Linked DNA regions of Homo sapiens: all the other regions are reported to be linked to region 1. The links are microRNA targets in miRTarBase. Many come from high-throughput screens and were not tested one by one. Region 1 holds a microRNA gene; each other region holds the end of a gene's coding sequence.

Evidence for each region. Region 1 holds the annotated microRNA hsa-miR-8063 (UCAAAAUCAGGAGUCGGGGCUU, at 1,899-1,920, shown strand). A microRNA usually pairs through its seed, bases 2 to 8, with sites in the 3' UTR of a target mRNA and lowers its output. Matches are read on the target gene's strand: a 7mer-m8 pairs with bases 2 to 8, a 7mer-A1 pairs with bases 2 to 7 and ends in A, and an 8mer does both.
Region 2: the mRNA of RLIG1 is a reported target of hsa-miR-8063. Seed matches in the 3' UTR shown: 7mer-m8 at 1,690-1,696.
Region 3: miRTarBase lists PITX3 as a target of hsa-miR-8063. Seed matches in the 3' UTR shown: 7mer-A1 at 702-708.
Region 4: the mRNA of EDIL3 is a reported target of hsa-miR-8063. Seed matches in the 3' UTR shown: 7mer-A1 at 3,243-3,249.
Region 5: the mRNA of SPRED3 is a reported target of hsa-miR-8063. Seed matches in the 3' UTR shown: 8mer at 2,342-2,349, 7mer-A1 at 1,295-1,301 and 7mer-A1 at 1,133-1,139.
Region 6: the mRNA of EDN3 is a reported target of hsa-miR-8063. Seed matches in the 3' UTR shown: 7mer-m8 at 2,856-2,862 and 7mer-m8 at 2,153-2,159.

The regions. Positions count from the first base shown.
Region 1 is chr15:36,970,663-36,974,750 of GRCh38, reverse strand. MIR8063 (microRNA 8063) reads left to right here and starts at 1,850; the gene lies at 1,850-1,930. The region is part of intron 8 of MEIS2 (Meis homeobox 2); the gene reads left to right.
Region 2 is chr12:88,048,041-88,052,128 of GRCh38, forward strand. It overlaps RLIG1 (RNA 5'-phosphate and 3'-OH ligase 1), which reads left to right. Exons shown (of 7, transcript NM_001009894.3): 7 at 194-2,120. The coding sequence ends at 382. It overlaps CEP290 (centrosomal protein 290), which reads right to left. Exons shown (of 54, transcript NM_025114.4): 53 at 2,314-2,393; 54 at 976-1,374. The coding sequence ends at 1,144. It also overlaps the pseudogene RNA5SP364. Among named protein-coding and RNA genes, the nearest start is that of RLIG1, 15 kb to the left of the region's middle.
Region 3 is chr10:102,227,060-102,231,147 of GRCh38, reverse strand. It overlaps PITX3 (paired like homeodomain 3), which reads left to right. Exons shown (of 4, transcript NM_005029.4): 4 at 47-959. The coding sequence ends at 634. It overlaps ELOVL3 (ELOVL fatty acid elongase 3), which reads right to left. Exons shown (of 4, transcript NM_152310.3): 2 at 3,391-3,522; 3 at 2,580-2,731; 4 at 1,559-2,323. The coding sequence ends at 1,896. It also overlaps a transcript of GBF1 not described here. Among named protein-coding and RNA genes, the nearest start is that of ELOVL3, 2.8 kb to the right of the region's middle. RefSeq lists silencers at 396-495, 506-765, 1,122-1,290.
Region 4 is chr5:83,939,999-83,944,086 of GRCh38, reverse strand. EDIL3 (EGF like repeats and discoidin domains 3) reads left to right here. Exons shown (of 11, transcript NM_005711.5): 11 at 519-3,533. The coding sequence ends at 668. Among named protein-coding and RNA genes, the nearest start is that of HAPLN1, 220 kb to the right of the region's middle.
Region 5 is chr19:38,395,463-38,399,550 of GRCh38, reverse strand. SPRED3 (sprouty related EVH1 domain containing 3) reads right to left here. Exons shown (of 6, transcript NM_001394336.1): 6 at 1-4,071. The coding sequence ends at 3,406. Among named protein-coding and RNA genes, the nearest start is that of FAM98C, 5.6 kb to the left of the region's middle.
Region 6 is chr20:59,323,763-59,327,850 of GRCh38, reverse strand. It overlaps EDN3 (endothelin 3), which reads right to left. Exons shown (of 5, transcript NM_207034.3): 5 at 1,859-3,520. The coding sequence ends at 3,392. Among named protein-coding and RNA genes, the nearest start is that of EDN3, 25 kb to the right of the region's middle.

The DNA.
Region 1 (4,088 bases):
AACATGGCACGCAGATTTAACAGTAGGACCTGGTTCCTCATGCTGGCTGGTTCCTCATGCCATATCCATCTGATACTGGATTTAGCTTACAGAGGACGTTAACCCATGTAAGTCAAAGCCACAGACTTAAACATCCAGAAAGTATAAGGTGGGCTGAGGGGCAGCCCTGTAAGGTAAGATCTTATTTCAACGTGATTAAATGCCTTCTATTAGGAAAATTGCTTTTTTGCTTCTGTTTTTCATATGTAAATGTTAACGTGGTATGTCATAGCTCTCAAATAATTTGGGAGAATATGGAAAATCATTGAAATGTTGATAAACCAAATTATTTAATTTTTGGAATATGAACAATTTGATTTTTGGAGTGTGAACAAAAATATTACTAATGAAATCAGTGGACTTAATGGTCTTACTGGGGTCAACTTCTGTGGCTCGATGGAAAGAAAAAATAAACGAACTATGTAGGAGCTTGAAATATGAACACTCAGAATTCTGAAATTCATTTTTTGAATTTCACTATGATGTTTGGTGTTTTAAAACACAAAATTATAGATTCAATATCAGCCCTGATATAGAATGTTCTGAAATAATGAAGAGCTGGCATTTCACAATACAGGATAACCAGACAAGAATTTATCTGTACCTGAAAGTTTGGTGACACTCTTCGAATTTCTAGGAAATGGAAATGTGACTGATTTTTATTGAGAGTTTTCAAGGTCAAAGATAGGAACTGCTCTCAAGGCATGATAGCTAGAAAAATCGAGGGGGAAATTGATGTGAAATATTGCTGAATTAAGTGTTTAGAAATACGTAAGTACAAGTTCTGGCAGGTATCCATAGACAACAAGGCATATATCATCTTTAAATATCATAAGGTTAATTTTGGAAATCAGTGGATTTGTATATCTCACGAACATTTCAAGTGGAATACTGGCTTTTTTTTTTAAATAAGAAGAAAACAATGTCATTAGTTTTTAGGGTTTTTTTAATTAAAAGTTCAGTTACAGTTTTTTAGTGTTAATATTTTAACTTCTTATTTGAACGTCATTACTCCAGTCATCCTCTTTATTTTTTCAACTCTTATTATGTGCAAAGCACCAAACCTGATTCTTCTAATTACAACTTGTATTTTACCATGGCAATTCGGATAATTTAAAATAGATGAACGCTTTGGGTTTATTCACTCATGTTTTCTTTTTTAAACCAATGTTTTATAACACCTACTAAGTTCCAGGCTCTTTATTCTATAGTTTTATGCCTACTCTCCTTTTCTCCATTAGAAGAATGCAGATCTAAGCTTTAAAGAGGCAGCAGCATCCAAATAAGAGTCAGTGCGCTTAACCAAAGAACAGCTTTTAACTGTTTCCTAGTGAAACATTTTGAAATAAAGGTCTTTCTACCGGGGCAATAGGTGTTGTGCCAGTGTCACACCAGAGAGTAGAAGCCTTTGAAGAGCCCTTTTGTGACTTGGCCACTCTGCAAAACTCTGTGTCTGAATCCTCAAGCTAAGTGGAATCTTGATTATGTTTTCTATTTGTAAATGCTCTACAGCTTATCCAGCATGATTCTATCATTTTCTTACTTAATCCTCCCAAATACCTGTAAAGCAGGTATTATTGTCCTATTTTATAGATGAGCAAACTGAGGCTTAGAGAGATTAAGTGACTTTAGTTTCCGATGGCCAAGTGGAAACTAAAGCTTAGTCTTTCTTCCACAGCTGTGTTGGTGTATATCGACAAGTAAAAGATGTCTATGCAAACACAGACTAATTCTAGTACATACTTAAGAGATTTAAAAGATAGTTGTTCAGTCAGCCCATACAAAGAAATTGTTTCTTAGTCCTAAGCAATAGAGGCAGTTTCAACAGATGTGTAGACTTTTGATATGAGAAATTGGTTTCAAAATCAGGAGTCGGGGCTTTACTGCTTTTCATGCACAGAAAAAAAAAAGTGTATCTCTATGAATTGTCACAACTGATTCCTCTAAATTCTGCTTTAGAAAAAAAGAATTTGTTATACACTTGAATCTTAAACTGTAGTAAAATTAAGGTCTTTTGGAAACCAGGAGAGGTGTTGGTCCCTGGGGTTCCTTTGAATCATATCAGAGTACACTATTGAAAGAAGGAGAAAACAGGACAAAAAATATTTTAAAAGGCATAAGACACATAAATGAATTTTTAAAAATAGTTTCTATTGGCCAGGTGCGGTGGCTCACACCTGTAATCCCAGCACTTTGGGAGGCCAAGGTGGGCGGATCACTTGAGGTCAGGAGTTCGAGACCAGATCATTGGGTACCTTGAAGGCCATGATAAACATTTTCGTCTTCAGCCTGAAAATAATGGAAAGCCACTGAAGCATGCCAAGCAGTAGAGTGACAAAATCACACGGGTCCTTTGCAGGGATCACTCTGGCTCCATTCTGGAGAACAGAAGGAGGACTAATGTTAATGCTCACCAGCTAGTCAGGATGTTTGTTTTTTTAAACTCAGTCCTTTTAGTTACACTTTATCTCTTAAGGTTCATTCTCTTCCTACTACATCTTATCATAACTTACTTTTGTGCTACTCAGGCAGAAGTTTTTCTTTTTTAAAACTTTTTATTGACAGCATAACGGAACATCATGAAAAAATTTTGCCACCTGAAAAATACCATATTCTCATTTCTTCAATAAAGTTAGTTTTACATTTATAGTTTCTGTTACTATATTGTTCTCCTATTGATATTGCAATGTCTTTATCATATTCCATTGAGATGTATTAAAATTTAGTTACGTGTTGCTCCACACTTGGACATTTAGGTAAGAAGTTTTAACCGAGGATGACAGGGATCAGTGAAATGCTGTCCAAATATATTCTTTTCCATTTTGCAGCAATAGAAACTAAGTTGGGAGAGCATATTCTGCCACTTTCAACCCCAATTATGTGAAAATCTCCCTTTATGAAGAATGTAAAGTCTCTGAGTATTTGTATTAAGAGTAATGCATGTTGCTTAGGCTGTTAAGGAAATATTGATTTCTGACCCTTAACTGAAATACTTAGCTTTCATTTTTCTTCTTTTTACATGAATTGTGTATATTGTGTTCCCCTCAGGGAAAACTTAAAAGCATTTTGTGTTATGAAGGCTCCATTCTAGGATCTTATTGCTTTTGAGATGAATAAATGGAATGCTTGCTATCACTGGAACAGCCCTTTTTTTTTTTTTTTTTTTTTTTTTTTAATGTAACAAGGCATACAAGTAATACAGGGCTGAATTTGGCCCCAGAACTTCTGAAGTTCCAAGCCAGTTTCTTACGGCCAAATTTAGCTTCCAGCTTTCAGTTGATGAGGAGCTTTGGCATATAGGCAATCTAATTTTTGTTCAGTAAAAACCTCCTTGGGTGTTTTAAATATAACTTTAAAATTTGTATTACCAGGTGATGCTTAAGCATTTCTTAGACATTGACTCTAAATAATTGCTCAGAAAACAATGTGCCTTAAAGGTGTTTTATACCAGCCTTCGAGGTATTAGAATGAGATGAGTTGGCGCCAAAACATTTCAATATGCTATAAGGAGATGAAATATGGCCAAACAGGTTTTTATGTTCTGATTATTCCTTTTTCCTGTTACTAGCCAGAGGCAGGTAAATCGACTTTACATCCCCCACCCCCCCAAGCCCACCACCACAGCAATTTTATTTTTATCAACCCCTTAGGAAATTTCAGAGGGTTTTTTTTTTCCTATTCTTTGAACACATACAATGGGAAAATTAAAACTTCTAAAAGTTTCTTATCTATTAATCTGTTGATGAGATGTTGCTTTAAACACATTTTATATTACTAATTAATTTAATTATACATACTGCAGTTGTATTAACACATTTTCTGTTCTCTGCTCTAACGTGACACAGTGCCCTCCCGCAGCCACCTTAACCTAAAGCTTTAATTGCTTTCTCCTTAGCCTCAGCTCATGTTTGATTTATCTGATTTCTTTGTATAAAGATTCTCTAGTTTACGATGTGTACACAGTCATTAAATTGGTGTTGATGTTTATGCAGTGAACTTGCCAACTGGTTACAGCGGACATCCCTTTATGAATTTATGATGGGGCAATA
Region 2 (4,088 bases), not on the chromosome of region 1:
TCACATTCTAATGGGGAAGATAGACAATAAACAAATATGTAATATGTCAGGAGAAGACCAGCTATAAAAAAAAAAACAGTAAGATAAAGTGGAGTCTTACCCAGTACCTGGCAGACAGTGGGCACTCAAATATTTCTAAGTGAATGAAGATAGTATCTGTATGCTAAAGCTAATACCTTTTTTCTCTTTCCAGGTCCATCGCCATCATCTTGGCTTATGCTGGCCAATTCCAGATACTTACATGAATTCAAGACCAGTTATTATCAACATGAACCTGAACAAATGTGACTCTGCCTTTGATATTAAGTGTTTGTTTAATCATTTTTTAAAAATAGATAATCAGAAATTTGTTAGACTCAAAGATATAATATTTGATGTATAAAATGCAAATAAAATTAGTTTATCATTATATTCTAATCTTGAATATTCTACCATATTTAAAAATATCTCAAGGTTTCTGTTCATTATGAAACATCAATATGTTTTCTACCATTTGTGAAGAAATGAATTTTCCAGTTTCAAGTACCTATTCAAAATTTTATTAAAAACCAGCAAATTAATTTTAATCTCTAGCCATAAAAACATAAGTAATAGTAAGCTCCTAAGCTTGGACAAAGGCTGGATTCTCTTCACTATAACTGAGTGGTAATTTAAAGACAACAATTTAATGTCACTAATTTTCAAAATTAAATAGTTTAAGCTCAATTTAATTTTGCTAGATATTTAACAAAACATACGGCTCAACCTCATAACCTATATGTGTGTATGTCTACATCTGTGTATATATCATAGGATTTGAGAATCTTAACACATGTATAAATAAGTATATATAAACTCCAATTTTAAATCTTAAAATTGCTGAATTTACCCTCATATTCTTTAAAAAACTTAAAGCATTATGAATGTAGAGAAATTCACCAGAGCTCACTGCCTATTTGATGGCTGTAACAAGTCTTCAAGTATATACTTTTATAATAAGTTGAAAATTTCATATAATTTTATTTATTAAGAATTCCAATCTAAGTATAAAGGTACAAGGTAGTGAGAAGGAAATACTACAGTTCGGAGAACTGCTTATTTCCAAGTATATTTAACTTATAAAGTTAATAAATAGTTAAATGAAACAAAGTTTATAGGTGACCTTTAGTAAATGGGGAAATTAACAGGACTTTCTTCTTCATCTTCAAACTCTTCAGAAGCAGCAACAGGGCTAGTTAATTCAACTCCCAATTGTTCTGAAAGTTTTTTTACCTTCTCTTCTAAGAGAATATTCTTCTTCACTTCTTCCTTGTAATTATACTTAAGATCTTCAATTTCTTCAAAAAATGAAGGATCAAAATTTTCCAGTTCTTTTTTCAGCTTCTTTATTTCCTCCTAATGGAAACATTATCTTTAAAAGTTGCATATAGGAAATATACATATTTTACGTTTGAACAAGGAGATTTAATTGTAAATATGAAAGCCAAAGTATTCCTGAATGGTCAAATACAGCAATAAAGGCAGAAGAATTAAGATTTTTCTTTGTTCCATTGTACAGTGTAAATAACTAAGTTGTTAACTGTCAAGTCCAGTTATGTATTCTGTAAGTTGTGTTCTAGTCTTTGACTAAAATTTATCATCTCTTATAATGGGACTTAATCTTTCTCTAAAAGCATATAAGAGCTTGTCAATAGAGCAATCAATCAAAAAGATTTTGTGATTCATAACATTGAAGTTAGTCTGGTTAAGAGTTTTGGTTTAGACTTCATTTATATTTTCCTTACTAATATCTAATATTTAATGAATAATGATCAATTTTTTATAAAGTTATTAATATGATCAGGGAAACCTTTGGGACTTCTGACAGGCATCTGGTGAAGAGACAATTCAAGCCTTAGTGACTATTTAGAATAGCCAGTGATCACTAGCTAATTCTCATATCCATGCCTTTTTGTCCTGTTTACAGTCTTAAAAGAGGTAAAACAGCAAATATTTTTTTAAGGGAACTATAACCTTAGGATTCCTGAAAAGAATTTCAAAAAAAAAATAAAGACACTGTTGCCAATGTGACCCAAAACTTAAGAACATACTAATGGCATATATTTGTTACAATTAAAAAATAAATTTACTACTTAATCCTATGTTGAGTCTGAATTTTTTGTTAACTCTAATATGTTAGGAATAGTCAGATGAACATAATTAACTTTGCAATATAAAGGTCAAATATAAGATGTTATTACTGAATTTTTTAGGATACGTAGTTAAAGATGGTAATGAAAATAGTTTTCAACAGCTGTTTTCACAAAACGATACTAAAATATAATTAAATATTACCTTCAAATGCTGCTTTTCTAGATCTGACATTTTGAGCTGTGTCTCTAGATCTTTTATTTTTTCCTTTAGTTGATCAGCATCTGTTGAAAAAGTCATACAAATTAGACTCAGCTTTTTCCCACTACGAATGAGTTCAAGGTAATGGATTTGTTCTAGAGAACAGAGATACATTTTATGAAACCTAGAACCTGGAAAACACTGGATGTTATGGCTGAAATACTTCAGGATGTAAACACTTAATGCTGCCTCCCTCCATCAAGTATTATAATTTCATAGCAGGCAGAAAGAGGTATGTGCTAGGTATTAGAAGTGTAGGCCAAGTTATTTTTTCTTCACATGATAGAAATTTTACATGGAAAAAATCCTAAAGCCAGGGAAACTTGTTAGGTACTAAAAGTACAACAGAAGAAAAGCAGACTGTTGGGTAAGGGACTATAACCATAAGCTAGCCAAATGCTCCCGCTATCCAACACAACACTGGCTATTCCATGTAGGTTATTACACATTTACTGTGCAATTACTATGTGCAAAACGTGTCATGCAGGCTGTGTAATACAAAGATAAGTAAGACATAGCCCTGATACTTTGGTAGGAAAACAAAAGTCTCCAAATATAGCACAAAAGTTCTAATTTATTGGATTCACCCTCCAAGTTAACACCTCTAACTTTATCAGCAGGCAAATAGGATTTTTGCTTTAATGCTATCTTTGCTAGATATCTCTTTTCTTTATATTATACTACATTTAATAAGTCATATTTTACAGCCATTGAAAAATAATAAAATACTAAAAGTTTGCGAAAGTAAGGGGCAGCAAACATTTTCATGGCTGGGACAAGTATCTTTTTTTTTTTTTTTTTTTTTGAGACAGTCTCACTCTGTCGCCCAGGCTAGAGTGCAGTGGTGCAATCTTGGCTCACTGCAACAACCACTGCCTCCCAGGTTAAAGCGATTCTCCTGCCTTAGCCTCCCTTGTAGCTGGGATAACAGGCAAGTGCCACCATGCCTGGCTAATTTTTATATTTTTAGTAGAGACAGGGTTTCACCATGTTGGCCAGAGTGGTCTCGAACTCCTGACCTCATGTGATCCACCCACTTCAGCCTCCCAAAGTGCTGGGATTACAGGTGTGGTGTGCTACTGTACTGGGCTTGGTATAAATATCTTAAAAGTTATCTTGCCATTTATATAGACAGTGATTTAGAATTTCCAAAACAGTTCTGGTTTGATCTTAAGCCTTAATCTTTGAAAAATGACAGGTAATCTGTCTACTTAGGAAATAAGGAATTTTGAGGGTTCAGAAATTCCCTTAAGAAACTGAGGAATGGAAAGATTAGAGAACTATCTATGGCCATATGACCCTTAATGCACATGCACCTGATCTCTGATCTCAGAAGCTAAGCACTGTTGGGCCTGGTTAGTATATGGATGGAAGGAAAATTATAAAATTTTCCTCACATCAACAGCATTAATACTGTGTCTAGTGTACATACCAAGCTGGCTGCTATGAGACATATTTTGAGAGTATTTAATATGTACTTTTAGTTACCAAGACGTAGCATAGCATAGCGGGTTAAGGACTAGGAATGCCAAGGAGCTGTGGAGTTTCATACATTTAGATTTTAATCCTGCCTCTATTTCCTAGCTGGCTTAGGGAATGGTTACTTAACCACTTTGAATTTGTTTATCACATAAAATGGAGACAGTAATACCTATCATATATGGTTGTAAATATAGAATGCTTGTAAGGCAATTAGCATAGTGTCTAGTACAACTCAC
Region 3 (4,088 bases), not on the chromosome of region 1:
TGGGACCCGGCCCCGGGCCCTGACCGCCTTTCTCCCGTGCCCGCAGGTGTGGTTCAAGAACCGGCGCGCCAAATGGCGGAAGCGCGAGCGCAGCCAGCAGGCCGAGCTATGCAAAGGCAGCTTCGCGGCGCCGCTCGGGGGGCTGGTGCCGCCCTACGAGGAGGTGTACCCCGGCTACTCGTACGGCAACTGGCCGCCCAAGGCTCTTGCCCCGCCGCTCGCCGCCAAGACCTTTCCATTCGCCTTCAACTCGGTCAACGTGGGGCCTCTGGCTTCGCAGCCCGTCTTCTCGCCACCCAGCTCCATCGCCGCCTCCATGGTGCCCTCCGCCGCGGCTGCCCCGGGCACCGTGCCAGGGCCTGGGGCCCTGCAGGGCCTGGGCGGGGGCCCCCCCGGGCTGGCTCCGGCCGCCGTGTCCTCCGGGGCCGTGTCCTGCCCTTATGCCTCGGCCGCCGCCGCCGCCGCGGCTGCCGCCTCTTCCCCCTACGTCTATCGGGACCCGTGTAACTCGAGCCTGGCCAGCCTGCGGCTCAAAGCCAAACAGCACGCCTCCTTCAGCTACCCCGCTGTGCACGGGCCGCCCCCGGCAGCCAACCTTAGTCCGTGCCAGTACGCCGTGGAAAGGCCCGTATGAGCGGCCCCGCCCGTAGATCATCCCCGAGGGCGGGGGCAACGATTCACAGCCTCCGCGGACTGGGGTCATTTTGACTGGCTTGCTCCCGCCCCAGGGTCTGAAAGGGGTGTTTGGGCAGCTGGGGGGCACCGGCTCAGGAGAGGGCCTTCCCCTCCCAGCCCTGAGGGGTGGACTAGGCCCTACACACAGACCGCGCCCCTGGGACTAAAGCCAGGAACAGGGACCAGCTCCCCGGGGGCCAACTCACCCTTGGCCCATCCCGCCTTCTCCAGGCTTCCCCTCCCTCGTTTTCAAAGATAAATGAAATAAACGTGCGCGGACTGTCGAAGGCGTGATGATTCAAAGTTGCGCTTGAGTCCTCTTCCCTTCATCCTCCCCCACTGTCTACAGGCGAGCTGGATGTACAGGAACGAAGTGAGGGTCCAGGCTTCTAGGGACTCAGTCCCACTCACCACCCCCCCTACTCCAGGTCGGGGCAGCCCGGGATTCCTGCAGCAAAGAGGTGCGTGCGTGCGGGGGACGTGGGAAACCGGCTACCTGGCTGGCATCGGCCACAGCCGGTGCTGCGGCGCCACCTCGTGGTCTCAGGGAGGCTAGCTGGTAGATCTGGTCTCCAACGCTTCCTTGTAGGTGTCAGCTCTGCTATTCAGGGAGCCTATGACTTTAGATAAAGTTACTCCGCCTTTCTGCACCTGTTTCTCACTGTTCCTATGAGGGGCTTGGGTCTCTAACAGCAATAAAATTCTGGTCTGTAACAGACATTTGTTAAGTGCCTACCAGGCCTAGGATTCTTTCAGTGTCTGTGTGTGTGCCTCTCACCCTTCCACACACCCTCAGGCGTCCCACCTGCAGATCATCCCCTTGGTAGCAGCCTCCTGCCATCACAGCAGCCCTCTTTCCCCCCAAATCCCCCAACTCTCAAAATTTTGTTGAAATCTTTAATTTAAAAAAACAGAGCAAGAAGAAGAAAGATTTCTGGATAGAAATTAAATAATCAGCTCTTAGGACCCTCCTCCGCCCCACTCCCATCCCAGGGCCTGCTTGGCCTTCACATTAAAAACAGAAACATTAAAGTAACAGACCACACCCCCATCCCAAGGTCACCCTTCTTGTCTGTCAAAAATTCCAGCCACCTTGGGGCACACATCCTCTGGGGAAACCATGCAGGTAAGGCAACCTAATCATTCTCCCAAAACTAAGCCCAGCCTCTTGGTGCCCTGGAGAAGAGAGAGCCTGGAGCTTCATTGTTCTCTCCAAACCTTCACTGGCTCTTGGTCTTGGCTTTGACCTTGGGCCTGATGTAGGTCTGGCAGAAGAAGTGGGCAAAGAGGATGAAATAGGTCATATACAAGATGAAGGACCAGAATAAGTGTTCCATCGTGGTGTGGCATCCCTGATCCTGCCTCCAGATGTACGTGAGGATGCTGACGATGGCTCCTACAAACATCTGCAAGATCTGCAGGCTGGTGATGAGCATGGGCAGCATCTTGGGGGGCTTCACGTTGGCAGCCTTCAGAGTGTAGTAGGTGTACATGATGGCATGAACACCAAAGTTCATGGTGACGAACCAGCCTCCTGCAGGCACTTTGTTCTTGTATCCAAAGCTTGTGTACACGAGCACTGTGCTGTGGTGGTACCAGTGAATAAAGATGAGTGGCCGCTTACGCAGGATGATGAAGGCTGTGTCTCCTGGGAGATGGAGAGTCATAGTTGGCATACCACCCAGTGCTGGGACCACCCTCTGCACTGGATGTAGGGACACGGGAGAAATTCTCAGGGGAGGGAAGGGGGTCTTTGTGGCAGAGAATCTGTAGAGGGGCTTGGGTGAGAGGTATTATTGGGACCCAAGGGTAGGAAAGAGACCCTCCATGGGATGGGTGAAGGGAGGGCCCTGAGGAAGGATGCAGTTCACAAGGCACCAGAAAGACAAAGCTTTGCCACTCACCGAGTTCTATGACCTTGCTGAGAAGAAAGACCCAGGACCAGAATTTGACTGTGGAATTATCGATGAAGTTGATGAAGCACACGGTTTGCTTTAGGCCCCCGGTAAGTAGCACAGTCCCCATAATGCCCCACATCCTCACTGCCCCCAGGATACTGAAATGGGACAAAGGAAGATGGTGTAAGTGTCATCCCCAGGCACCAATAATCCACCCTTCCCCCGGCTTGGCCAGGTTACTGTGTTCCAAGCTCTACCACCTCCCCACCTGTCCACAGGGGGTGGGTCAAAGCTCCTGAGATCCTGAAGCCAATCTGGTAGATCCAATCAGTAGTCTAGAGGAGACGAGGGCTGGAGAAAGATCAGGGAATGCAGGGGGATGGGACTGAAAGTTGAGTTAAGGAATGGGGTTCTTGGGAGGGGTTAGGAGCCTGGGAGGAGATGTGTAGAGGGATAGGGGAAGACTGAAGGAGTTTGGGGGAGAAAATATGGGGAAGTTATTGGAGGGTCTTGAGAGAGGGTGTTAGGAGGTGACACTATTAGAGGCTGGAGAAATTAGTTGCGAGTACAGACTCTACGAAGGCAAGAGGGACAAAGCAGAGACCACCAGGTAGGGGTCTAAAAGAGAAGGAAAACAGGATAATATAACAGAAGAGGGTGAAGGCTGGGAGGGGAACTAAAGCCGAGAATGAGATGGGGAGAGTGTTACAAGGCAACTTGGGGACAGGATGGAGGTTGATGCAATCGGGAAAGCTTCAAGGGATAGAATGGTGGTCTAAGATCTAGAGAAGAGGCAGGGAGTGGGATGGGGTCTTACCTGAAGATTGCAAGGCAGAAGGACCAGAGGATGAGAGGCCCTTGCAGGTTGAAGCCCTTGCGTTCCTTCATGTAGTTCTGCCCCACAGCGATGAGAACCAGGTAGATCAGGGCTATGGGGAATGAGGTTGCCCTGGCAAGCAGAAGGCAGAGGGATGGGCTCATGGGTGGGTGCTGATTAGAGAAATGCCCACTCATCTCTCCAGGTGAGTGCTCTGGGTTGGAGTCCCAGTTCTGCCACTTACTAGCTATGTGACATTGGAAAAACCAACTTAATTCTCTGAGCCTTGGCTTCCTCATTTGTAGAGCGCGAATACTACATCTCTCCTGGGGGTATTAACGTATACAAAGTATCTAGCACAGGGCAGGAGCTATGTCCAAGGTTTCTGTGATTATTGCTCTCTCAGTGGGGTTAGAGGTGGGTGACGGCTGTCTGGCCCGCGCCTAGAAGCAGCCCAGGGCTGTGGTGTAAGAAGTGTGGCAATAGCTTCTCCCTGGTTGGGGCTCCTAGAAGCATACCAGGGCTGTGGCGTAAGAAGAATGTGGCAATAGCTTCTCCCTGGCTGGGGTATGGCAAATTGGTTGGAGCATAAAGTCAGCCTCCAAAACCTCTGGGGAGCTTTAAGGCAAAGCCAGAGAGCTCTTCCTGGGGAAAGCTTGGAAGAGCTCTCTGACTTCGCCTCCTTCTCCACAGCAGGA
Region 4 (4,088 bases), not on the chromosome of region 1:
GTAAGGTGAAACAGATATATACAGAAGTGATATAAGCTGCTTCCATGCTTGTTCTCTTAAACACTCTGCACAGTCTGCTAACTCTCCCTCCCCTTGCCCCTTGTGAATGTGGAGGCCGCCTGCTCCAGATGATAGCTGTACTTTGCAAGCAGCTTGGATCTCTGAGTCACCCCGTGGAAGAGAGCATCTTCAGCAAGCTACATGACTAACGTCAGCCTGTGACATAAGCAAAAAATGAATACCTGTTGTATTTTTTTTAATTGAGAGAAACAAGTAGAGGAAAATGATAGACCTATGAATGTCTGCATTAAACAATAAAGGTTTAACTCTTTAAACATTAATTGACCATTTAATTTAAAATAATTATTATTAAAAAGAAGCTGCAATATATTTTGAAGAAAAGAAAATGAATAGTTATCAAATATCATGTTTGGGGAAAATGTTCCAAACAGGAACATAAAAATAATTTCAAAGAAAGAAGGCTGTGTGACTGACATTTTTCTGCTCTTCTTTATTAGGTTTTCCAGGGAAATTTTGACAATGACACTCACAGAAAAAATGTCATCGACCCTCCCATCTATGCACGACACATAAGAATCCTTCCTTGGTCCTGGTACGGGAGGATCACATTGCGGTCAGAGCTGCTGGGCTGCACAGAGGAGGAATGAGGGGAGGCTACATTTCACAACCCTCTTCCCTATTTCCCTAAAAGTATCTCCATGGAATGAACTGTGCAAAATCTGTAGGAAACTGAATGGTTTTTTTTTTTTTTTCATGAAAAAGTGCTCAAATTATGGTAGGCAACTAACGGTGTTTTTAAGGGGGTCTAAGCCTGCCTTTTCAATGATTTAATTTGATTTTATTTTATCCGTCAAATCTCTTAAGTAACAACACATTAAGTGTGAATTACTTTTCTCTCATTGTTTCCTGAATTATTCGCATTGGTAGAAATATATTAGGGAAAGAAAGTAGCCTTCTTTTTATAGCAAGAGTAAAAAAGTCTCAAAGTCATCAAATAAGAGCAAGAGTTGATAGAGCTTTTACAATCAATACTCACCTAATTCTGATAAAAGGAATACTGCAATGTTAGCAATAAGTTTTTTTCTTCTGTAATGACTCTACGTTATCCTGTTTCCCTGTGCCTACCAAACACTGTCAATGTTTATTACAAAATTTTAAAGAAGAATATGTAACATGCAGTACTGATATTATAATTCTCATTTTACTTTCATTATTTCTAATAAGAGATTATGTGACTTCTTTTTCTTTTAGTTCTATTCTACATTCTTAATATTGTATATTACCTGAATAATTCAATTTTTTTCTAATTGAATTTCCTATTAGTTGACTAAAAGAAGTGTCATGTTTACTCATATATGTAGAACATGACTGCCTATCAGTAGATTGATCTGTATTTAATATTCGTTAATTAAATCTGCAGTTTTATTTTTGAAGGAAGCCATAACTATTTAATTTCCAAATAATTGCTTCATAAAGAATCCCATACTCTCAGTTTGCACAAAAGAACAAAAAATATATATGTCTCTTTAAATTTAAATCTTCATTTAGATGGTAATTACATATCCTTATATTTACTTTAAAAAATCGGCTTATTTGTTTATTTTATAAAAAATTTAGCAAAGAAATATTAATATAGTGCTGCATAGTTTGGCCAAGCATACTCATCATTTCTTTGTTCAGCTCCACATTTCCTGTGAAACTAACATCTTATTGAGATTTGAAACTGGTGGTAGTTTCCCAGGAAGGCACAGGTGGAGTTATTTGTGAGAAGCAAAGTGTTTACTAATGACAAAGTAGTAAACCATTTTCAAGATGAAAACTGATTTCTATTTATTTTGCTTCAAAGGTCCTGAAAAAATAAGCAATTATCATAACAATTTGTTATTGATACTGGAGGTTTCATTGACATGTCTCTCAAATTAAAGCTCACACTGCCTCCATAAAAGTCTTCAACATCTAATTTATAAGCTTTACAAGTATTTATTTTATAAGGCTTAGACAGAATTATTGGAGTTTTAAATTAAGTGTATTGGAAAAGAAAGGATGGTATGTGTATGAAATGTTAAGATCCTACGCAACACTGCTATTTTTTTCCTTTAATATTTGTGCTGCATAACAAAAGCCACTAGACTGTTACTGTCTTGTCTGTCCATGTGTTAACAGCATTTCTTAATGATGTATATATGGAGTGGTCTTCAATCATAGTGAAGAATTTAAAGAGAAAGTCAATTGTATTGGCATTTTTAATAAGAACAAAATTAGTTCGTCTAAGGGGACTGGCTGGCCACATATTTGTTCCTTGCCCATATGCTTTCTACTTCTTGTTCTTATTATGAAATTATGAATTTGAAGCCTCTGAAATGGTGATCAGTTTTCAACATCTTTCAAAAACAAAATTACTATTTCCTCCATATTGCCTTTTTTAGATAACTTTAAAGTTAGGATTTTAAAATATTTGTAACTGGCTAAATTTTAAAGTCGTGACAAATAATTACTTAGGTTCAGAAATATACACACACTTACTCTTTAGCCAGTTTCTTTCAAGGTTTACTGTCCCATCAGATATCTAGCCATTTTCCTTTGCAAATTACATACCTTCTTAAGAGTGTATTTTTAAGATTATTACTTACGCTTTATGATGATATAGTTTTTCAAAATTATTTATAGCTTCATATGATGTTTTGTAATTTTTTCTATTGATACCTGTTTTAAAAATATTTTCCAAGGAAGTTGATTAAAATTATATTTGTTACCTTTTAGAAAAAGCATTGAAATGAGTTTCTCTTGCTTTTTCATTTTCCCTCTGCTTTATATGCTCTTCGCAATACATCATGTCCAACGGGATACCTATTGTTCTCATGACACCCAAAATTGATGAGAGCAAAGGGGTCGCACCATATGGAAATGTTGAAAACTATTGTAAAGTAGTATTATGAAGTAGCTTTTGTGTCATTCATGTCGATGACATGAAAGTGAAGTAAATTTATTCTATGTAAATTCACACTAAAACCAGTACAGTACCATAAGTAGAATACATGTAAGAATCACCTAGTCTTCACTATATTGAGTAAATATAACATGCTAATTTTACAATTAATGAAACTAAACTTTTAAACATCTCCATTATATCTACATCCTTTTGAAGGTATTTATCATAGTTGCCAATTTTAATTTTAGGATTGACTTTCTCTTTCTGAATGACTTCATAAAGTTTGGTGTGAATTTTGAAGACTTGGGTTACTAATGATTGTATCTTTGCTAGTCAACAACTTATGAAATATACTCAATGCGTCTGATGTGTCATTAAGTGCAGAAATAACTAAGACACAAATAACCTTTGCAAACCTTCAAGCTGTGTAATATTCCAATGTTGTTTTTTTCTTTGTATATATACTTATATCACGTAGGATGTAAAACCAGTATGACCTTGTCTAGTCTCCAAACTTAAAATAAACTTTTGAAAAGCTGGGATTCTTTTGAAGCAGTTGTAATTAAACACATTTATAAGAATACACAAATTGTCTGAATGTGAATGCCCACTACTCTTGACCACATACTTGGTTCATTTTTGCCTTGCACAGGACAGTTGAACGGATACAGAAAAAATAGAAATTACAACAACCTCTAAATATATATTGATATTAGCTAAACTGGTCTTTTGAAGATTATTAAAATGTATGCATTCTTCCTGCTCCTTTTAGATGCAGAAGTTTTACTAGAATATTCTTAATCCAAAGTCATTTTTGGCCTCATGTATAAAGCATTGTGCACCAGGACTGATCTGCCCATTGTTAATCAGATGATATTGCTATCATTTCTATAGTTTTTTCAGTTCATGATGCTCAGGAGTATGATGAAGAAATCCAGTCAGTAGTAAGCAATAATATAACAGTAATAATGTATTTATCCATGTAACATTAGCTATTGAATAATGAAAATCATAACGTGGATTCTTCATAAATCCTGTTTCTAGCTCTCTGGAAGTCACTGGTGAAATACTAAATCTGTGTACTTGCTATTGTTTTGACATTTTCTTAGGATGCAAACAATTTAGGGAGGAATTAAGA
Region 5 (4,088 bases), not on the chromosome of region 1:
GTGCCCCCTCCCCCGATGACAAGGCTGGGTCTTTGGCCCCCATCCTCCCCCACCACTTCAGCCTGCACTGACACTAACAATATTGAGGTCACAGACTGGCTTAGAAACAAGATCAGGAAGATATATGTTGGGGTGCCTCCCCCAAATCTGGGGGCCAAGCATCCGATCTGAGGGGCAAGCGGCTGGGAAATTGGGCCTGGGGGCTCCAGGGTCTGAGGTCTGCCTGGCTCCCAGGGCGGCCCTCCATGTACCCCTGATTTGGGGGCAATGAAGGGGAATCATGGATCAGAGGTGGGTCTCAGCAGGGAGCAGGACTGGGGGACCTGGGAGAGGCGCTGCTGGGAAGTGGCGGCCAGGGGACCTTTCCTTAGCCCCCACCGCTTCATCTGCAGATCCCACAGCACCGTACAGCACTCTGGTCCCCCGTCCCACCCCTCCCCAAAACGAGGTAGGTTAAGAATGGAGCTTCCCCCCCGCCCACCATGGAAGGGGGGAGACCGAGGCACAGAGAGGGGCATGGGGACCCAGGCTGCCCCAGCCCCCAATCCCTCCGCCCTCAGCTCTGGTGGGTCTGACAGTGATGAGAGCTGGGCAGAGTGGGGAGGGGAGAGACACCCCCGCTTTTCTCTCACCCATCCCAGGGTCTGGTTGGGAGTGCTGAATCTCACAGGTTCCGGATGTAATAAATAGTTAATAATTTAAAGGAAGAGACAGAGGACCTATCCCTTGAACCCCAACAAGGCCATCCAAGTCTGGGTAATGAAGAAAGGTTAAGTGCACAGTTCCAGATGCTTGGGGCCAGATGCAGGTCCCAAGCCCATACAACATTGAGACTGTCTTGCTCCAAGACCTTGAGGCCCCCATACAGGACACCAGATCTTCGATCCACTGGAAGCCCCATTTCACTTGGGGGAAAAAAGCCTGTGGCACCCCCCTTTGCACAGAAGAGACTCAGTGGGCCATGAAACAGGCTTTCAAACTTCCTGAAGCAACTTCTCACTCTAAAGTGGAAGAGAGCCAGGTGCAGTGGCTCATGCCTGTAATCCCAGCACTTTGGGAGGCTGAGGCAGGTGGATCATGAGGTCAGGAGTTTGAGACCATCCTGGCCAACATGGTGAAACCCTGTCTCTACTCAAAATACAAAAAATTAGCTGGGTGTGGTGGCACATGCCTGTTATCCCAGCTACTCGGGAGGCTGAGGCAGACGAATGGCTTGAACCCGGGAGGGGGAGGTTGTGGTGAGCCGAGATTGTGCCACTGCACTCCAGCCTGGGTGATACAGCGAGACTCTGTCTCAAAATAAATAAATAAATAAATAAATAAATAGGAAGAGAAGGGGTTAATGGAGGGGGAGAACATAAAAGGTGGGACTTGAACCTGGACTAGGAATTAAGGTTGTGCTTGAAGGAAGGTCTGCAAGACTGGGGGCTGTGGGACAGCAGAGCCATAACTAGCCTGAAAGTTTCCATTGCACACACTTCTTCTGAGGGCACAGTGTGGCCAGCAGACTGGTGTGACTTCCAGCTCCTCGAAACCCTGGGCTGTGTGCCTTCACTTAATGAAGACCCTGCATAATCATCTGTGACAATGCTGGGTCCTAGACGTGACAGTGAGGGAGCTCCTACTTGGTCCTTTTTTTTTTTTTTTAGAGACGGTCTCACTACATTGCCCAGGCTGGTCTCAAACTCCTGGCCTTAAGCGATCCTCCTCCCTTGGCCTCCCAAAGTGCTGGGATTACAAGGCATGAGCCACTGTGCCCCACCCTGGGTGGTCCTACAATGAGTTCCAAATGGTAGGGATCCCACCCTAAGATAAAGGGGTAATTCTGAGGATTGCTGGGGGCTTGGGCTGGGATCCTTGGGACCAGAATTCCAGAGGCTGGAACCTTGGGGTTTTAGGGGCCTATGGATGACAGGATTCAAGGGGCAGCAGGTCTCTGAGGTCCGACAAGTGGGGATGGGGGAATCAGGTGTAGAGGCAACTTGGGGTTCATCAGACTAGAGAGGTTTGAATCCAAAGAAATCTGGGGTCTGAGGGTGCTGGGGTCTTGGGGCACCTCGAATCTGAACGCCTCTGGTATGGAGGGATGAAGGTCTTGGATCAGGAACAATCCCAATGTTGTAGGGTCTTGAGCCTTGCATTTGGGGGTCAGTGGCACCTTTGGGGTATTGGATCCAGTGCTCCTAAAGTACCTTAGGGTCACTCAAGGGCTGAGGGCCAAGGGCATCAGAGGTCTGGGTCACCATGAGCATCCCCTCTTCTGGGAGCTGGACTCCCAGCCCTTAAGGGGTTGGGAATCTGTGGGTAGAAAGAAGCTGAAGATTCCAGGACATTTGGGGTCTCAAAATCCAGGTCCAGGAGGGACTGCAAGAGAGGGCTATTTGAGAACTCGAGACCAGTATCTCGGGTCCTGAGGTGTTGGTGGCCTTCAGTCGCACATCTGAGGACCCCAGGCACCTCTGAGTCCTATAAATGATATCCAAAGCTCCTGAGAACCCTGGCTTGGGGGTGGGTGGACCTATGGAGGTCTTTGATCCCTGGCTTCCAGAGCATCTTGGTGTCTGATATCTGGATCTTGGGGGCTCTGGGATGGGTCTCCCAAGTCATTTTGGTAAGAGAACAGCTCGTGTTTCAGTATATCCGAGCACTCAGTGCATCTTAAGAGTCTGGGGTCCCAGGGTGTCTGGGAGTTCCCTGGACATCTTAGACTTCAGTGTTCCCGGACTGGAGGCCAGGTCTGTGGGCACTAAGTCGTGGGTAGATTTGAGGGGCAGCATCTGGAGATTCCAGAGCATAACAGAGTTTCAAACTCTGTTTGAAACTTTCTCAGGGGTCCTGCTGTCTCAGGGGTCCTGGGACTATGAGAATGTCTCAGATGTGGGGGCACCAGGTCTTAGGTGAATATTCAGGAACTGTTTGTGGGTGACTCCAGGTCCTATGGTCTCAAGATCTGATCTGGGAGTTGAATAAAGGCAGAGCCAGTTATGGGCAAGTCCTGACTAATTGTGGGGCTGTAATCTGAGGGACATGGTGCCAGGCGTGACCGGGTTCTAGGTTGTTCATTTCAACAGGGACCTGCCCTTTTCGGGATCTATGTGCTCCCTGGCCTTTCTGAGATGCAAAGTATGGGGACGCCTGGAGCCTCCTCGTGGGGTGTGGGGGTGGGGGAACGCCAGAACTCAGGACGCCTGGGACTTCTTAGACAGACACCCCAATGAAGCTGGGGCTGGGGTCTCTCAGTCCTAGGTTTGGGTTCCAGGTTCCAGGTCTGAGATCTCTCAATCCAAACTCAAGCTCCAAGTTCCGGATGTGCCTAGGTTTGGGTTTTAGGTCCGAACGGAGTCCGGGGTCCTGGACCCTCAATTTTGGGTCCTCGGGCCGGCTAGGGGACCCACCAGGCCGTCCTCACCGCGCAGCCTCCTCGTGGCGACCCCCGCAGCCGGCGCAGCCGCATCGCGCTGCGACCCAGTGGCACGCGCGCAGGGGCGCGTAGCAGCAGAGGCAGGGCACTGCCAGGGAGAGCGCGGCCAGCGCGGCCCAGCGCGCGGCGGGGCGCGGGTGGCCCGGCTCGCAGGCGCACGGGTCCGAGAAGTCGCCCTCGGCGTCCGACAGGCAGTGGTAGAGCAAGCTCTCGGCGCACCACAGGCAGCTTAGACGGCGCACCAGGAGGCGACCCGGGTCCGGGGCCTCTGCGCAGCGGCCGCCACGCCCGTCTGCTCTGCGACGGAAGAGCGCGCGGCAATGCACGCAGCGCGCTGCCTCCTCCGCTTCCGGGGAGGCCTTGGCAGGCGCAGAGGATGGGCCCGGGCCGGGGGGTGGGCGAGCGGGGGGCGCTGGGGGCGCAGCCTCGGTCAAAGGGGCAGGTAGTGCCGCTGGGGGACCCAGGGCAGCGCCCCTCAACGCGCCGGTCTTGGCGAAGCGCACGACGCAGGTGGACAGGGCGAGGGGCGCGGGTGGCCCGGAGCGCCGGTAATCCTCGTAGCCGCGGCCGCCCCACCCCAGGCCCCCTGCCCCTGCCAGGGGCTCTGAGGGTTCCGGAATCCCCGTGAACGGTAGAAGCGGAGGGTAGCTCTGCGGAACGAAGGGAC
Region 6 (4,088 bases), not on the chromosome of region 1:
TAAAGGACATGGTGTCAAATCCAGGTCTCCAGACTCCACAGCCTTTTTTTGCTGGGCTTCAGCTGAGGCAACCTTCACAGGTGAACAGGATCCCGGGCTCAGAAGGGCTGGACGCCCGTGGTTTAATGCACGATCTGAAGTTCTTACTCCTTCTAAGCCAGGGGCCCTACAGTTTCCATAGCCAATCCTGCTCATAAATCCATAGACTGCTCCTTCATTCCTCCACCCAGATGCCAGAAAAGCCTGCCACGTCTGGGCCTCGGACTGCCCATGACTCCTGGAAGTCCTTGGCTGTCCTCCTCTGCCTGGGGCCTCCGTGGCACCTGGGCAGCTCCTGGACTCCAGGACCTGTTAGTGCCTCGAGTGAACGCTGCAGCTCCTGCTGTGTGCTGCCCCACATCCTGCAGAAAAAACCCAACGCTCTCAGTCCATCAAAGTCAAAACTCTCTAAGATGACTTTAATTAAAACAAGAGGCTCCTGGGTTTTCTCAGATCAGGTAGCCATCAAACTCAAACCTACTCCTCTTCTTGGATTTCTCTTTGCTCTTTGGCTGGGCCTGTCTTTGTCCAATTCCCTGCCTCCCACGGTCTCTGATTCTTTATTCAAAAGGCAGGTGGAGAAGGTAGGAAAGGAAGTAAGAAAGAAAATGAAGGAAACCCCACTCTTTCCGAACATCCCCAATCCCCCAAGACGTCTTATAAGCTTTAAAGACTTGCAGGTGTGATCATTGCTGTCTTCTGGTTATCAAGAACTCAGCAGCCACACCCTTTCCCTAGAATCCTGAGCCCCCAGCAGTGCCCTCTCACTAGAATCCTGAGCCCCCAGCAGTGCCCTGTCTCTAGAATCCTTAGCCCCCCCAGCAGTGCCCTCTCCTAGAATCGAGCTCCCTCGCAGTGCCCTCTCCCTAGAATCCTGAGCCCCCCAGCAGTGCTTTCCATAGAATCCTGAGCCCCCAGCAGTGCTCTCCCCCTAGAATCCTGAGCGCCCCAGCAGTGCTCTCCCCCTAAAATCCTGAGCCACCCATCAGTGCCCTCTCCCTAGAATCCTGAGCCCCCCAGCAGTGCTCTCCCTAGAATCCTGAGCCCCCAGCAGTGCCCTCTCTCTAGAATCCTGAGCCCCCCAGCAGTGCCCTCTCCCTAGAATCCTCAGCCCCCCAGCAGTGCTCTCCCTAGAATCCTGAGCCCCCCAGCAGTGCTTTCCATAGACTCCTGAGCCCCCCAGCAGTGCTCTCCCCCTAGAATCCTGAGCGCCCCAGCAGTGCTCTCCCCGTAAAATCCTGAGCCACCCATCAGTGCCCTCTCCCTAGAATCCTGAGCCCCCCAGCAGTGCTCTCCCTAGAATCCTGAGCCCCCCAGCAGTGCCCTCTCTCTAGAATCCTGAGCCCCCCAGCAGTGCTCTCCCTAGAATCCTCAGCCCTCCAGCAGTGCTCTCCGTAGAATCCTGAGCCCCCCAGCAGTGCCCTCTCCCTGGAATCCTGAGCCCTCCAGCAGTGCTCTCCATAGAATCCTGAGCCCCCCAGCAGTGCCCTCTCCCTAGAATCCTGGGCTGCACAGGCATCTTTGGCAGGGCCACAAGGAAGCCTCCCTATTGCTAGGAAGGCACAATGGCCTAGGGGAAGAACCAGCTCTCTCCCCAGGTTTCTCTCTTCCTGACTGCTGTGAATGTTTTATCTTCTTGGAACGGTCCCCAAACCCCACTTCTTCCTTAATATTCAGGCAGCCCCTCATCTAGCTCCATAACTGACTTTAGATGGATTCCACTTCCCAAACCACAACTTCTTCCCGTCCTCTCCAGAGGTCCATGAAAAGTTGATGCGCAACCCCGCACATAAAGACAGTGAGGAAAAAAACCCACAAATCAGAGCAAACTTTAGGTTTTTTATTAGGCTTTTGACAGTACTTTCTGAGTATTTGAGCAATTGATGGGTTTCTCTCTGATACCATCTTGCCACGGTGCCAAACAGCACATATGCATTTTAAAAATGTAATTCAAGCTCTAAGGAGTATGAGTTTGTATTCAGAATGCAATTTAAAATCTACCTACCTATCTACCTCTCTATACGTATATACAGTGACTACTTTGAACAGATCCACATAAAGGAGTTGGAGTGGAGAACAGTTTCACAATAAATAATCGCTTCTCTAAACTGTACAAAATCCTACCAGCAAATCAGCCACTTTCATTTCCTCATGATAGGTCATCACTTTTATACCTGTAATAACTTATGAAATACACACAGAGGATTTAACATTTGGTCAAGGCCAATGCTCTGTCATACACCATCTTAAATGTCTCTCTACGGGGCCCTGGACACCCACTCAAATGCCGTTTCCTATCTCTCTGTGACTGGGTTGGGGAGATGGGCAGCCCTCCCCTGCGCAGGCGACTTTACATGGTGGGATAACATCTCCACACTCACAGTAAGCTCGGCTCGGTGGGAAGAGCGCAGCTGAAAGAGATTTTGAACTGTCAGACGGTATAAGTTGTTGCCAATTTATATAAACAGGAATTTACATAATTTACAAAGAATTTGTGTTCGTGACTTATTTTGAAGCCATTCCCCAAAGATCCACATTTACTCATGAAAGCAAATATTCAACCTAATAGCCTTGAGCTGGGGCTGTCTTTACAGTCGGCTTCCTGCAAACAAGGCCTGGGAACTCCACTGTGTATCGGCCTGGTGTCTATACAGAATACAGAGGGTCAGTCACTGAACAGGAACAAGCTCTGTATTGCAGATACTAACTTTCTCATTTTCTTGTCACAAACATCAAGGATCCTTTTTTCTTCTTCCTTCATTCTTTCGAGATACATTCTTTTGGTGGGTATCAAGCACAGCTGAAAATTTCTCTGCCAAAATCCCATAAGCTTCAAATTCATAAACTCCTGTAGAGCTATGATCTGTGTCTAAAGCCGACGCCTCGTGGCCCTCACTGACATACACCATGCAGCCTATTCTAGGCAAGGATATGAAAGTCGCATGCTTCTGCTGCACGGGCATTTTGCATTTATTACAAGATGGACATGTGTTTACATTTGCAAAGAGTTAGCTTGGAGTCCACTTATTCTCCAAGAGAAGTCATGTCAAAAGCCAGTAAGTGGCTTTCCAACTTGCCAAAACTCTCCAAAACCAATTTCCTGCATGAAACCGGAGCTGCAGGCGTCATGCTCTGGGGCACATCTGGGATCATTTTACTCATTAGGAAAACTGGGGTCATTCGGATTTGGGCATTCTTGCCGTGGGGGGGGGGTATTGTTAAGTGGGGACTCTTTGGGTGGGTGTTCTGCCCCAGGCAAATTCACTTCTTGTCTATAAAGAGGTGGAAATCTGAACTGTGTGTGAGCAATGACAGAAGCCTCCCGAGACCAGGATGCTGCAGGCCTGTCCTCCTAAGGGGCTCCTTCCTGAAAGAGGCAGCGGGGGCAGGTAGATGGAGCGAGGGCGAGTCCACTGCCGGGCATGAGCTTTGGATGGTGGAGGTCTAAAGCCTGCTTGCTTTGTTGGTCCTTGACTTCAACCTGTCTTGGGGAAAGGGGGCAAAAGAAAAAAAAAGAAAGGTATGTTATGAAAGTGTAGCTCTGTAGTTCTGTGAAGCTGAAAAAGGGAACGTCTTCCCACTGCCTCTCCAGCCTGTTCCCTGATTGGAACTGTATGTACCCTCTTCCCAGTGCTTCTCAGCAATTTCCGAGCCTACCACCAGACTGGAAAAGTGTGAAAAGAATAACACCAGCAGACAAGGCTGCTAGGGGCCCTCCCGCAGCCTGGCCCCATCTTTGATTACCACAAGCTAAGGATGGTGACAGCTTCCACTCTGAGAATGTGAATCTGGGAATTACTAACTTGAATCTTGCAAGAAAGCAAGAACATTGGCTTAATAAGAGACTTTTTCTTCCCAAGTAAAGCTTCTTACTAGAGCTTTACATGACTCATAGAGACCTGGAAGAACCACTTTTCCAGGCCCTGCTGGGACATCTGCACCACCAATTGCATCTTTTGAACATGTGACATAGAACAGTAATAATCACCACAACAGCAAAAGGACCGGTGTGCTTCTCCTATATAGGGCTCCCTTCTGGCCGTTCCCTG